Regions from separate parts of the Homo sapiens genome. Here region 1 is linked to region 2. The links come from fine-mapping of genetic effects on gene expression. Tissue or cell type: gastroesophageal junction. Region 2 holds a variant in brackets; the other region holds the start of a gene. All regions are shown on one strand. Distances are between the middles of the regions.

The links. PIP is the estimated chance that this variant, and not a neighbour inherited with it, causes the effect. A credible set is the group of variants that fine-mapping cannot tell apart.
Region 1: PLEKHG4B starts here. The variant in region 2 is the best candidate, but not a certain one, in a credible set for the expression of PLEKHG4B in gastroesophageal junction (GTEx, PIP 0.81).

The regions. Positions count from the first base shown.
Region 1 is chr5:90,792-93,703 of GRCh38, reverse strand. PLEKHG4B (pleckstrin homology and RhoGEF domain containing G4B) reads right to left here and starts at 1,536. Exons shown (of 20, transcript NM_052909.5): 1 at 1,428-1,536. The coding sequence starts at 1,472. RefSeq lists an enhancer at 2,497-2,912.
Region 2 is chr5:239,467-242,378 of GRCh38, reverse strand. SDHA (succinate dehydrogenase complex flavoprotein subunit A) reads right to left here. Exons shown (of 15, transcript NM_004168.4): 11 at 1,903-2,021. Among named protein-coding and RNA genes, the nearest start is that of SDHA, 23 kb to the right of the region's middle. The variant T/C (reference allele first, on the strand shown) is at 1,365.

The DNA.
Region 1 (2,912 bases), 150 kb after region 2:
ACCCCCCAGAAAGGCCAGCAGCGCCCCTCTACCAGGATAAAAGATGAGAAGGCTCCGGCTAACACAGGGGACCTGACACCCTGGCCTACCGGCTGCCTGCGGGGTCAAGCCTGTGTGCTCCCAGCCCAGGCCACATCTGCATTTGCACACCGGATGCCGCACAGTGAAATAAAAACCTGGTATCTCCTCAGAAGCAGGAATATGAACCCACTTCTCGGTGGGGGGGTCACCAAACACTGCTTCCCAGTGGGTTGTGATCCCATAGGGAATGGAAATGCTGAATATATCACAGAATCTCGGAGACGGCGGCCTCCTCAAGATCTCCGAAGTTCCTTCTGACCCAGAGAGCCTGGAATTTTGTGAATTCGAGGCAGGCTCAGGGAAATTGAAAGCTAAAACTCACCTTTGTCCACATTACATGAAGATTTACATTAAATCTCTTCGGGAAGCTGAGAAACCTACCTTCCCAGGAATCTTGATTCAGGACCCACCCAGCTGCCTAAGGCTCAGTCAAAAGTATCAATTATGCACCGTTTCAATGACATTTAACTTAATTTTTAAATTATATGTTTCAATTCTTAATTAGACACCTAGACGTACCAACTAAACTTTTTAGGCAAAAGTGCTGTTGGGTAACAGGAGTAGAGTGTAATTACCTCACCTCAACCACTCTTTAGTTTCACACGAAACAGGGAAAGGCAAACCCAATATACTTTTTGCAACTCACATGAAAAACCTGAAAACAGCTTTATCACTCTTTCACCAAAGCTGAAATAACTGTCTTGTTTTACTAGCAAATGTTTCTTACTCAAATCAACTAGCACTCCAACACAAAAGTCAATCTTGGTATTTTTAAGTAAAAATTCTCTTTGTTCCGGGCCACCACAGATCACTGTTCTGTCCCACCGGTTTGAGCTGAAGAGTAACTTAGCAACTCTCAGTTTTGGCGATGAGATTTCAGACTCCCCTCCCCTGGCTCCCCTTCAGGCACCGAGAGGGCAAATCTGTCCAGAAAGCGTTATTTCTTCTCCCGAGTATTCACGAGGTTACAAGGAAAAGGGTGCCTGAAGAAGCTCCCTCCCGTTCCCGCAGCAGCCGCCGGCAGGTCCCAGGACCCACGCCAGGACCCCCAGCACGTCTGGGTACCCGCGCCCCCTCCCACCCCAGTCCCCGCGCCCGCCCGCCTTGATGCTCGCGCCTTCACCCCGCCCCTACCCCCGCGCCCCCACCCGCCCCTACCCCGGCGCCCCCACCCGCCCCTACTCCCGCGTCCGCTCGCGCCCCCACCCCACCCCTACCCCCGCGCCCCCACCCGCCCCTACTCCGGCGCCCCCCCCCACCCCGCCCCTACCCCCGCGCCCCCACCCGCCCCTACTCCCGCGTCCGCTCGCGCCCCCACCCGCCGCAGTCCCCGTGCCCCCTCTTACCCGGGCGCCTGGGCCGCCCCCGCCGTCTGCTGTGCTGAAACCCATGCTGGACCCTGGTCTCCCGAACTCCGACGCTTTCCCCGAACTCTGCCTGGTCCCGCTGTGCACTGGGCCGAGGCCGCCTTCGCCGCGCGCGTTCCCGGGGCCCCGCCCGATCCGGGCGAGAGAGGGGCGGGGCCGGGGTCTCCCCTAGGAGGCTCCGAGGGTCCGGCCGGGGCGGGGCGTCTCCCCTGGACCCGGCTGCGCAGCTCCCGCCTAGCCCCGGACGCGCCCACCTGGGCGGCTCCTCCCCGAGCGCGGGCGGCAGTGGCTTCTGCTTTTGTTCTCTCGGAGCCCGGAGCTCGGGGACCTGCCATTTTGTGGATGCCACGTTGCACCCGGACGGGCCCCTGGTTTCCATAACGTAGAGGCACAAATCTGAATGCTCCAGGGCAGAGGATCTGACCCCTGAGTTCTGCCAGTGTACCCGGACGGGACCCCGATTTCCCCTGGTCTAGGCGGACCAGCTCCAGATTTCTGCAGGTGTGGACGGCCCAGGCCCTCTCCTCCGTCCAGGGGCCGCTGTGGGAACTACGTGCCACCCCGCGCCTGGCTTGGATAATGAAGGGCTTCAGCGAGGGCCCCAAATTCCATCACCCTCCCCCCCCACAACTCAGGGTGCCTCGGGGTGTCTGGTGCTCTGGAACATGCTTTCCCCAAAGGTGCAATTTTAATGCCTTGATCTACAAAGAGCCTCCCAAAACAAAGTCCCTCTCCCGCCCGTTAGTCCAGGGTGCTCTGGGCACCAGCTTCCTGCTGGGAATTCAGCTAGGGAGTGTCTCATAAGGTCCACTCCGTCCAGGAGGGCCTCACAGGGACCCCACCTCAACCTGTCCCCTCAACTTGTCCCTCACCCCTACCCTGGCACCATCCCAAAAACTGCGGCACAGATGTGCTCATTGACAGATAATGCTCCGTTTTGTCACAGGTTACAGAGTGGATGAAGCTCAGGGACACAGCTGGGAGCCTCCCTCCTATGCAGCTCAGGGACACAGCTGGGAGCCTCCCTCCTATGCAGCAGGCAGTCAGTCTCCCTGGGATCTCCGTCGAGGCCTCCTTGAGTCTCTGTCTACTCCTTCCTAGAATCCCTGTCCACACCTCCCTGGGATCCCCTCGAGGCCTCCCTCCCTTGAGTTTCTGTCTACTCCTCCCTGGAATCCCTGGCTGCGCCCCGCCTTGATTCTCCATCTACACCTGTGTTCTCACTGTTCCCTGTCCTGCTTACTTGCTCTGCTTCCTAGAACCTCCAGCCCCATCCCTGAGCCCAGGCAGGGAGCTGACCTGTTCCTGCCCTCTGTGCTGGGTATCTGGGTGTCCCTCTGTGCTGGCCCCTACCTGAGGCCCCCAACACCCCTGCCACACCCTCCTCCCAGCCCGTCCTCGTGACAGTACTGCCCACGGTGCTGTCCAGGATGGGAGCCACCTTTCTAAGCCTGTGTGGCCCCA
Region 2 (2,912 bases):
GTTTGTGGTTTAAGAATGCCTTAAGCGGTTTTCCACCCTGGGTGGGCCAGGTGTCCCTTGCCCTCATTCTGGTAAACCAACAGCCTTCTAGCGTGGGCGTCATGGCCATCAAGAGCATGTCACAGTGCTGCAGAGATTTTGTTTATGGTCAGTTTTGGGCCACATTTGGGGGCCTGTTCCCAAAAATTTACCTCATTTCTTTTTTTTGCTTCTTACTATGAATAGCCAGACTCAGCAGAAAAATCCCTTCCCCAACGGAACGCATTTCCACGAGCAGAGGAAACTCTGTTTGTTCAGTGCTGACTCCAGCATCTCGTGGAGCCTGGGATACAGCAGGCACCAAGACACACCATGTTTGGTGGGAATGCTTCTAGTATTCTCACTTTAAACTATCTCATGGATTTGCCATTTCTATATCCGAAGGCATGTTCCCATTCTCTAATGCAATGGTTCTTTCTTTCCCAGCTGGCCTCCAACCCTACAATAGTACTGCAGGGCATCACTCAGCCTTCTGTGCCTTAGTCACACTGTTCTTCTCACCATTCCACAAAGCCTCCCTGAAGCCCAGCTTCACTTGAAGACTGAAGGGCACAGGCCTCTGAAAATGTCAGCAGGGAACCTGTTCTCCTGTGTCTAACACCACATAGGTGTTAGACACCTATTTCAGAATAGGACTAAAGCAATGGACTTTTTAGAAAATACACAGAAATTCTTGCAAATAGTAGGCAAGAGATCTCATTCATGGACAAGAATCCTTGTTATTAGAGGAATTCAGTTTCTTAGACTGACCATGTATCAGGTTCTCCACGGCCCCATGGCTAATGGCTGCCATACTGGATGGCAAACACTCGGAACATTTCCATCATCACAGATGGTCCTACTGGACCGACTCCCAGCAGCACAGGCCACAGATCAGTTTCCACCTGCCGCCCACTCTCCCTCTCTTCCGAGTATATTTAGAGGCAGCAACAAGTCCAGCTTAAAGACATTTCCGAGCTGCTGGAAGCCAGGCATGATGACATGATCGATATCCGGGCCTGAGATGTAAGCACCAGTGTTGTGTTGAACTCCAGGAAACCTCTAAGAGAAAGCTGCCCTGCTGGGGACTGAGCTTCTCCAGCGGTCCTGCAGTTCCCTCTCCTCCACGCTGTGACTCATCCATGACAGCCAGCAATGGTCAGGTCACGGAGGTCACACCCAAGCACACACGAGTGAACCACAGAAGGCTGTCCTGGATGCCAAGCAGTCACTAATTCTGCCCTAGTCTGCCGACCTTCTATGTGGAAAAGAAGTGCACTTCTGTATAGTTCAGGCCTCCTGGTCTCTTTCATATTCTTGATACGGTGAGGAGTACGTCCTACCGC[T/C]GTTTACCTCCAGATACTGGTGCAGCCTTATGTATTTATCGCAGCACTAGTCACAACAGCAAAGTCATGGAATCAACCTAAGTGCCCATCAACGGATGACCAGATGAAGAAAATGTGGTACATATATACCATGAAATACTACTCGGCCATAAAAAAAGAACGCAATCATGTCTTCTGCAGCCACACGGATGGAACAGGAGGTCACTATCCTAAGTGAAGTGACTCAGAAGGTCAAGTGTCACACATTCTCACTTGGAAGTGGAAGCTGAATGGTGAGTACACATGGACACATGGAGTGGAGTAGCAGAGACTGGGAGCTCCAAAAAGCGGGAGGGGTGGGGTTGAACAATTACCTACTGGGTACAACACACACGACTTGTGTGACGGGTACATGAAAAGCCCAGACTCCACCACCTCCCAGTACATCCACACAAAACTGCACCTGCATCCCCCTAGATCTAGTTTTTAAAAAACAAAACCAGTGCAGGGCCAGGTATGCAGCCCTCCTGCTCACTCCAGAGCGAGTCCAGGCTCTTACCTTCTGCATGCTGAGTCGCAGTTCCGATGTTCTTATGCTTCCATCAGCAAATCTCAATTTGTCAAGATTCATGACAGATTCTTCCCCAGCGTTTGGTTTAATTGGAGGGACTTTATCTCCTAAAACAAAAAAAAGCTAGAATTTAACTTTTGAAAACCGTTTTAAAAAACCAAATGGATTTAGAATGACACACAAACATGTAGCACAGCCACTCAAGGAGCTTGGAAACTCTGTAAGTCTCCTGAGCTAACACACTGCCAGCCCACCCTACAGCTGAGGCCATCTGTTGAGTTGGGGCCAATTTTAAAGAACATAAAGGCAAAATTGTTGGCACACAGTAGATATCCATTAAGTGATCTTAGAGTGAATAAACTAGAAATCATCTCTAAAATTAAAAAATTAAATGTAGGCCGGGTGCGGTGGCTCACGCCTGTAATCCCAGCACTTTACGAGGCCAAGGTAGGTGGATCACTTGAGGTCAGGAATTCAAGAGCAGCCTGGCCAACATGGCAAAACCTCGTTTCACTAAAAACACAAAAATTATCTGGGTATGGTGGCACGCGTCTATAATCCCAGCTACTCGGGAGGCTGAGGCATGAGAACTGCTTGAACCCTAAAGGTGGAGGTTGCAGTGAGCCGAGATCGCGCCACTGCACTCCAGCCTGGGCAACAGAGCGAGACCCTGTCTTAAAAAAAAAAAAAATTAAATGTATACAAATTTATATATATTAAGTGTATATAAATGTCACTCCACTAAGGGAAAAAAGAGACACCTTCCAGATGGTGGTCCCAAGGGGCCGGCCACCCTTCACATCAGCGGGGGGAAGGTGGCTGCTGTGTGCTTGAAAGTCACCTGTTGATTTGGACTCTTATGTGCTCTCAACTATACTTCAAGATTAGCAATTTTTTTTTTTTTGAGATGGAATTTTGTTCTGTAGCCCAGGTTGGAGTGCAGTCAGTGGCACCATCTCGGCTCACTGCAACCTCCATCTCCGGGTTCAAGCAAGCCT